Linked DNA regions of Homo sapiens: region 2 is linked to region 1. The links come from fine-mapping of genetic effects on gene expression. A gene starts in region 1. The other region holds a variant in brackets. All regions are shown on one strand. Distances are from middle to middle.

What was found. PIP is the estimated chance that this variant, and not a neighbour inherited with it, causes the effect. A credible set is the group of variants that fine-mapping cannot tell apart.
Region 2: its variant is the best candidate, but not a certain one, in a credible set for the expression of COG4 in monocytes after Pam3CSK4 (Quach 2016, PIP 0.52).

What each region holds. Positions count from the first base shown.
Region 1 is chr16:70,521,922-70,526,306 of GRCh38, forward strand. It overlaps COG4 (component of oligomeric golgi complex 4), which reads right to left and starts at 1,633. Exons shown (of 19, transcript NM_015386.3): 1 at 1,452-1,633. The coding sequence starts at 1,622. SF3B3 (splicing factor 3b subunit 3) reads left to right here and starts at 1,895. Exons shown (of 26, transcript NM_012426.5): 1 at 1,895-2,007. RefSeq lists enhancers at 1,266-1,405, 2,439-3,176.
Region 2 is chr16:70,565,244-70,569,628 of GRCh38, forward strand. It overlaps SF3B3 (splicing factor 3b subunit 3), which reads left to right. Exons shown (of 26, transcript NM_012426.5): 19 at 1-27; 20 at 125-281; 21 at 2,168-2,293; 22 at 3,040-3,252; 23 at 3,800-3,898. Among named protein-coding and RNA genes, the nearest start is that of SNORD111, 29 kb to the left of the region's middle. The variant CA/C (reference allele first, on the strand shown) is at 1,808.

The DNA.
Region 1 (4,385 bases):
CGATTTCCTGACCTCGTGATCCATCTGCCTCAGCCTCCCAAAGTGCTGGGGTTACAGGAGTGAGCCACCGCGCCAGGCTTTTTTTTTTTTTAAGAGACACAATTTTGCTCTTGTTGCCCAGGCTAGAGTGTAATGGCGCTATCTTGGTTCACTGCAACCTCCGCCTCCCAGGTTCAAGCAATTCTCCTGCCTCAGCCTCCCGAGTAGCTGGGATTACAGGCATGCGTCACCACACCCGGCTAGTTTTGTATTTTTAGTAGTGATGGTTTTCACCATTTTGGTCATGCTGGTCTCGAACTCCTGACTCAGGTGATCCTCCCGTCTTGGCCTCCCAAAGTGCTGGGATGGCAGGCGTGAGCCACCGCGCCCCGCAAGATACTAAATTTTAAAACACATCTTGCTGAGGCCAGACAAAAAAAGCCCCACACACTAAACTAGCCAGGCACGGTGGTGTGCGCCTCTGGTTTCATCCATTCTGATTGCAGCACAACAGCACTCCAGCCTGCGCAACAGAGAGCGGCCCTGTTTCTAAAAATAACAAAACAAAACAAAAAACACCACACACATCTTGCTGAAAAACGTATCAGAAACTGCTAGAGTTAGTGCAAGTTTATACTTGAAAATACTCAAAGATATCAACGATCACCTCTCCCTCAGGCTGAAACTGCCTTTTGTGCTCAACTTTGCTAGAAGTTTGGTCTGGGAAACAGCTGACAAGCTTAGAGCTTAGATCTCTTTTGACTAGCAAGGAACCCAACTGACATTCGAAAGTGAATTGACAGCATCGAGTTGCCACTGAAAATTAAAGGAGGCAGGAAATAGAACGTTATGAACTGAAAGGAATTGGAGAATAGTCCACACCCCTCATTTGATAAAATATCAAGGGTACCAGAGATGAAGTGACTTGTCCAAGATTAGAGAATTGTGTCTGAGTCTTAAAAGCTAAACCTCTACAAAGATGTGCATTTGACCAAAACGCTAAAATCACACCCCCAAATCACTCCCCACAAGAGGAAGTCTTAAAACGCTTCAAGAAGTTAATCTGCAAAGGCTTCCCTCTTAAATAACAGGATGAGAGCGTTTCATAATTTGTAAATTAAGCCAATGCAAAAGGGCGCTTATTATTTTGAGAACCAAGCAATTTGGCAAATACTCTCAGACTAACTTTACTCCCGTGGAGAAACTGGTGATCATGGATCAGGGAAATCAACGGGGGTCTAGGGAGGAGAGGCTGCAGATCGCCCAGGTATCAGGGAAGACAAGCTCGGCGCGTCCGACAGCGTGAAAAGAGTTGACAGGACTACTCATATACCCGACTAGCTTCCGCTTCTTTGTTTTCCCGCTTTTTTGTATCCCCCAGCAAGGAGAGTTTCCCACAGCCCGGATTTCCCGACTGAAGGCTCCCACTCTCCCTAGATCCTCCATGAAAAAGAAGAGGCTCGACCCCGCACCTCCTCGCCGCAGAGCCGTTCGTATACAGCCTCCAGCTCCTGCAGCTCTGTCAGGGAGCGAATGAGCTCAGCGGAGATTTCGGAGCAGCGGCCACCTCCCACCCCCTCAGACGGCTGCTGCACCCCTGACAGCTTCGGAGGCGAATCAAGGTCCGCCATCTTGGTCCCCATTCGGCACTTCCGGTCCCGCGAGGCCCCCTCTTCGTTGGCGCCTATTTGGGGCTGCCCACAGAAGTGCCCAATGAACTCTAATGGTTTTTTTTTTTTAAAGTCTACTTCTAAAAACGTATTAATTTTCTATTCTCCTGGAAAAAGCAAAGCAATAAAGCATGTTTAAATAATTTGTAATGCCGTGTGGAAGCAAGACGGAAGCATTTTTTAAAAATTATATATATTCTTCAGGCGCGGATTGGGTGCCTTTTTCCGCCGCGCGCCACCAGAATGTCCCTGTCTTGAGGTCTAATGGCGGACGCCAGTATGTTGGAGTTGGTGGTGGCTTAAGTTTTGAAGGGAGGTAGCATCCGTTGGATATCCACACCATCCTTCTCGCTGCAGGGTAAAAAAACAGCCTGGAGACTTCCCCGGGCCCGGGGAGGCGGAGACCGGCCATATGGAAGGGGGACCCGAGACTTTGGCGGGGGTCACGGGCAGTCTAGGCCCGAGAGGCTGGGGACCAGGAGGAGGTACCGAGGGATGGTTGAGGCGCCAAAACGGCTTCCTGCAGTTATCTCTCGCTTCCATCCACAGTGTGGGAACATATTCTATCTCAAAATAGGGCTCGTGGAGATTGCTTTTAACTTCTGGGGACTCTGAGACGGGGGAGGTGTGACAAGCAGCGGGAGGCATGGATGTCTCCCTCTGGGTAGAGTAAATGGTACACCGAGGGGAAGATAGAAAGATGGAGCGTGTTAAAAGCGTAAATAACGGAAACAGTCTTTAGAGCCAAGACTCCGGTTTGAATTTGTATTTTGGTAGTTGGGCAACTTGTCTCCTCCTCTGAACCTCTATTTTCTCGTTTGCGTAATGGAGGACAGAGTTTAAATGCGATGATGTTTCCTTGGAGGATGGAGAAGATGCAGTGAGCAATCATACAAGCTTTTTGTAATAATGGTAAACAGACGTGGGGGAAGTTTTTTTTGTTTTGTTTTGTTTTGTTTTTGTGACGGAGTCACAGTCTGTCGCCCAGACTGGAGAGCAGTGGCGCGATCTCGGCTCACTGCCATCTCTGCCTCCCGGGTTCCAGCGATTCTCTTACCTCAGCCTCCCGAGTAGACTAGCTGGGATTACGGGCGCGTGCCACCACGCCCGGCTAATTTTTCTTTTTTTGAGACGGTGTCTCGCTTTGTCGCCCAGGCTGGAGTGCAGTGGCGCGATCTCTGCTCACTGCAAGCTCCGCTTTCCGGGTTCACGCCATTCTCCTGCCTCAGCCTCACGAGTAGCTGGAACTACAGGCGCCCGCCACCGCGCCCAGCTAATTTTTTGTATTTTTAGTAGAGACGGGGTTTCACTGTGTTAGCCAGGATGGTCTCGATCTCCTGACCTTGATCCACCCGCCTTGGCCTCCCAAAGTGTTGGGATTACAGGTGTGAGACACCGCGCCCGGCCCAGACGTGGGGGAAGTTTTAAAGCTTACCAAATTTATCTGGTATGTATTTTTTGTTTGTTTGTTTTGTTTTTGAGACGAAGTCTCGCTGTCGCCCAGGCTGGAGCGCAGCGGCTTGATCTCGGCTTACTGCAGCCTCCTCCTCCTTGGTTCTAGCTATTCTCACGCCTCAGCTTCCCGAGTAGCTGAGATTAAAGGCGTGTGCCACCGCGCCCGGCTAGTTTTTGCATTTTTAGTAGAGGGGTTTTCACTGTGTTGGCCAGGCTGGTCTCAATTCCTGACCTCAAGTGACCCATTTGCCTCGGCCTCCCAAAGTGCTGGGATTACAGGCGTGAGCCACCACTGCGCCTGGCCTCGTATATAGTTTTTCTAGTACTGGACTGATCCTCCGAAATGCACCTTCCTCCACGATCCAAAGTTAAGGTGTCGCTGGAGAACCTGAATCCAACTAGATTTGGGAAAAAATGAATTCCAAAGGTTTGTAATGGATTGTATCAGTTATAAGGAAAGGGGAAAGTAGACTGTTTTGATCAGCTACAAAATATGAAAAGTAACTTGCGGGGAGCTGTTCAGGGATTCAGAAGCAGCTCCTAGCTTCCTCTCTTTTGCTTTTTTTGTTGTTTCTCCACTCCCTGGTCTTTCAACATCGGTCCTTTTCGTTCATGTTTTACTGTGGTCCTAGAACGTTAAACATATACCTTAGTCTATGGGCTGGGCGCGGTGGCTCAACGCCTGTAATCCTAGCACTTTGGGAGGCGGAGGCGGGCGGATCACGAAGTCAGGAGATCGAGACCATCCTGGCTAACATGGTGAAACCCCACTAAAAATACAAAAAATTAGCCGGGTGTGGTGGCGGGCGCCTGTTGTCCCAGCTACTCGGGAGCCTGAGGCAGGAGAATGGTGTGAACCCAGGAGGCGGAGCTTGCAGTAAGCCAAGATGGCGCCACTGCACTCCAGCCTGGGCGACAGATTGAGACGCCTCAAAAAAAAAAAAAAAAAAAAAAAGGAAAAAAAAAAGATATACCTTAGTCTCAAGTAGAAAATTTTATATCTCTCAGGACCCATTTCTAGCCTGGAGCATTGATCTTGCCACCCTGCTTTTGCTCAGCCCAGAAAGTTATTTATGAGGACGTTTACTCATAATTCTCTCTTCTCGTTTAACAATAAAATCAAATATGTATGTTAATTCTATACTAATGACCTTGGATTTCTCAAGGTCCCGTGCTTTTTATTTATTTATTTTTTTTTTTGAGATGAGGTCTCATTCTGTCGCCCAGCCTGGAGTGCAGTGGCATGATGTTGGCTCACCACAACCTCCGCCTCCCAGGTTC
Region 2 (4,385 bases), 43 kb after region 1:
GCTGGAACAGAATGAGGCAGCTTTTAGGTAAGCAGCCCAGGACAGTCCAGGGTTTGGCAGGCTGGAACAGGAGCTCTCTGAGTTTTGACTAAGGCCTTACTCTTGCTTCTTATTCTGTGTGTAGTGTGGCTGTGTGCAGGTTTTCCAACACTGGTGAAGACTGGTATGTGCTGGTGGGTGTGGCCAAGGACCTGATACTAAACCCCCGATCTGTGGCAGGGGGCTTCGTCTATACTTACAAGCTTGTGAACAATGGGGAAAAACTGGAGTTTTTGCACAAGGTAGGAATCTGCCAGTGGTTCTCCTAGATTTTAAGTCCCATTGAATTCTCTCACTTTTGCTTATGTTATGGATCAGGTCTTTTGGGGACCAGCTCCTTGATTCCAATCTCTCTCTTACCAGCACATGGAAAATGCTGGGGCCTTCTAGCTGCAGTGATGTTCTTGTGCCTGTGCATTCCACAGGAAGGCTTTGTGCTAACCATCCATAATGGGGAGATAGATGCACATTCAATTGGTCTCTTTCTTACTGTTTTAATAAGCAGGCAACAATTTGTGACCAAAATTCAGCAGTTTAAATAATTAATATTCTGGCTGGGCGCAGTGGCTCATGCCTGTAATCCCAGCACTTTGGGAGGCCGAGGCAGGCAGATCACCTGAGGTCAGGAGTTCGAGACCAGCCCGGCCAACATGGTGAAAGCCTGTCTCTACTAAAAATACAAAAATCAGCCAGGCATGGCGGCACGCACCTGTAATCCCAGCTGCTCGGGAGGCTAAGACAGGAGAATCGCTTGAACCCGGGAGGCGGAGGTTGCAGTGAGCCGAGATTGCGCCATTGCACTCTAGCCTGGGTGACAAGAGTGAGACTGTCAAAAAAAAAAAAAAGATTTAATATTCTTTTCCACCTGCATTCTCTGGGAAGTTACTGTTTAATGGGTACAGAGTTTCAGTTTGGGAAGATGAAAAAAATTCTGGAGGTGATAGTTACACAACAGTAAATGTGCTTAATGCCACTGAAGTGTATACTTAAAAATGACTGGCTGGGCATGGTGTCTCACGCCTGTAATCCCAGCACTTTGGAAGGCCGAGGTGGGCGGGTCACCTGAGCTCAGGAGTTCAAAACCAGTCTGGTCAACGTGGTGAAATCCCATCTCTATTAAAAATAAAAAATCAGCCAAGCATGGTGGTGGGCGCCTGTAACCCTAGCTATTCCAGAGGCTAAGGCAGGAGAATCACTTGAACCCAGGAGGCAGAGGTTGCAGTGAGCCGAGATTGCGCCACTGCACTCCAGCGTGGGTGACAGAGCGAGACTCTGTCTCAAAAAAAAGAAAAGGATTAAGATGGTAAACTTTATGTTATGACTATTTTACCATAATTTTTAAAATAAAAAGAATATTCTCTTCTCCACAATGACAGCATGTGGATTCCTTCAACCCTACCATAAGGGGAGTATCCTCTAAGAAATACTTCATAGACCCTTTTGCATATTAAATTTGTCTCTCCTTTACAACTGAGATGTCACTAGGCTGGGTGCAGTGGCTCACGCTTGTAATCCCAGCATTTTGGGAGTCTGAGTCGAGCAGGTCACTTGAGCCCAAGAGTTTGAGACCAGCCTGGGCAATGTGGTGAAACTCAGTTTCTACGAAAAATACAGATAATTAGTCAGGCTTGATGGCACATGCCTGTAGTCCCAGCTACTCGGGAGTCTGAGGTGGGAGGATCACCTGAGCCCAGGAAGTCCAGGCTATAGTGAGCCATGATTGCGCCTGCCACAGCCCTTCAGCCTGAGCAGTAGTGAGACCCTGTCT[CA/C]AAAAAAAAAAAAAAAGTCACTTTTCACTAGCATTTCTTTCCTGTCCCTCCACAAATTACAGTCACTTGGCTACTAAGGCTTCACTGTTGAAATAACACCAGTTAAACAGAGCACAAGCTCTGGACAGCAGTCGTCTGGTACCAGAACTTCTTGTCAGTTACAGCATTGATCCCTCTACTGAGTGAATGCAGCATGCGGAACTTGTTCACCCCAACACCCAGATTCATTAGCAAAATAAGCTCACTGGTGTGTTTCTTAATGATAGGCTCCTGTGGAAGTAGGCATTTCTGGGCAGAGAGGTGAGGCCTGTGTCTGGCTGGCATTTATAATAGCTGTATTACCTGCTTTTCCTCTATAGACTCCTGTGGAAGAGGTCCCTGCTGCTATTGCCCCATTCCAGGGGAGGGTGTTGATTGGTGTGGGGAAGCTGTTGCGTGTCTATGACCTGGGAAAGAAGAAGTTACTCCGAAAATGTGAGAATAAGGTAAGTGTGCTGGCATTGGTGCTGAGATCTAGCTCATGTGTCAAGGGTGGGGGCATTGGTGGGGTGGTGGGCATTGAGTTTTAAAATCTTATCTTTATTAGGACTTGTTGTGTTACCCCAATTCCAGCTTCAGAATTATGCCCTTGTTTTTTTGTTTTTTGGTTTTTGAGACGGAGTCTCGCCCTGTTGCCCAGGCTGGAGTGCAGTGGCGCAATCTCGGCTCACTGCAACCTCCGCCTCCTGGGTTCAAGCGATTCTCCTGCCTCAGCCTCCCAAGTAGCTGGGATTACAGATGCGCGCCACCACGCCTGGCAAATTTTTTGTATCTTTAGTAGAGACAGGGTTTTACCATGTTGGCCAGGCTAGTCTCTTAACTCCTGATCTCATGATCTACCCGCCTTAGCCTCCCAAAGTCCTGGGTTTACAGGCGTGAGCCACCGCACCGGCCCTTGAGTTTTGAGAGGAGCAGGAGTAGAGGGATCTCATTTCTTGACTTACCAAACAAGAACCAGCTTTCTATCTTGCTAGCTTCTATAAGGAAAGTAAATGTGAGAGTTAGGCATATATTTGCACTATATTAAAAGCTATTTGGCTCTTTTTTCCCACCTAGAATTCATTGCTAACTGCTGGTTTTTGGTATTTGCTGTTCTGCTGACCCTACGTATGTCATACGGAAAGCTGGGCTTTCTTTGGGTTCTGAACCCCAAGATTACACCCACCATCACTATTGTCTTTGTTTTTCCCAGCATATTGCCAATTATATCTCTGGGATCCAGACTATCGGACATAGGGTAATTGTATCTGATGTCCAAGAAAGTTTCATCTGGGTTCGCTACAAGCGTAATGAAAACCAGCTTATCATCTTTGCTGATGATACCTACCCCCGATGGGTCACTACAGCCAGCCTCCTGGACTATGACACTGTGGCTGGGGCAGACAAGTTTGGCAACATATGTGTGGTGAGTTGATGTTGTTAACTTGGGTTACAGTGATGTGTAGGAAAGCTGGCTCAGTTTCTTGTGGGTAAAGCCAAGGAGGAATCAAATCTGAGAAGTAAAAATGGATATAAAATTCCATCCTACTAAAGCTAACTCTACAAGCAATCTGTTCTTTAAGCCTTCTTACTAGTCTTTTGGATTTTTCTCTGTGGTTTATCTCCCTCCTCCCTATTGAACGTGATTTAATGATAGGTTTAGTTTGAGCTAATGGCTAATATTTCTTTTTACATTTTATAAGAACTTTGGAATGTCTGTTATCTATGTTGTGTGGTTTTGGTTTTACCCTTAGCTGTGTTAAACTCTTGCTCATGGGTCGATTCTTTTGAGTTTCTTGCTCCTCAGACACAGCTCCTGCCCACCAGAGCAGGTGCAGGACACGTGGGCTCAGGCCTCTGTCTAGGCAGTGCCCCTGTGGCTGACTTGCAAAGACCTGGCCAGACCTGTTGCTTGGTGACTCAGGTGAGCAGGTCCGGGCCCCAGCAGTGTGACTTGTGTCACTTCCTTGTAGGTGAGGCTCCCACCTAACACCAATGATGAAGTAGATGAGGATCCTACAGGAAACAAAGCCCTGTGGGACCGTGGCTTGCTCAATGGGGCCTCCCAGAAGGTAAGATTGCAGAATGGGCCCCAGGGAGAACACTGCTTAGCACTTTTCCTGTTGCCCTCACTGAAGAAATTGCCTTTGGTGAATTATTCATAGTGCACACGACTGTGCTGAGTGCTGTCCGTCCACAGTCCTTTCTTACCAATCTGCAAAAAATCTCCTTGGAGAGTAGCGAGTTTCTTAGAGAGAGTCCATTCCCAGTCCTCTGCTCTGAGGTGTGTCCTGGGCTTTACTTTCTCCTGTAGGCATGTGCTGCTTTAATAGAGCATCTCTGGACTTTCGGGCAAATCTATTTTAGAAGACAAGCCTAGTGATTGCTGTTTTCTATAATTTTCTTTGTGTTTTCCTTTTTTATGGCAAGCTTGATAAATTTAACAAAATGATTCTTATCGTAAGAAATGATGAACAGTAACTTTAGCATGTTTTATGAGGCATTAAGCTTTAAGTAAATGTGAGAATTTTAAAATATTTGTAGGGTTTAATAATTTTT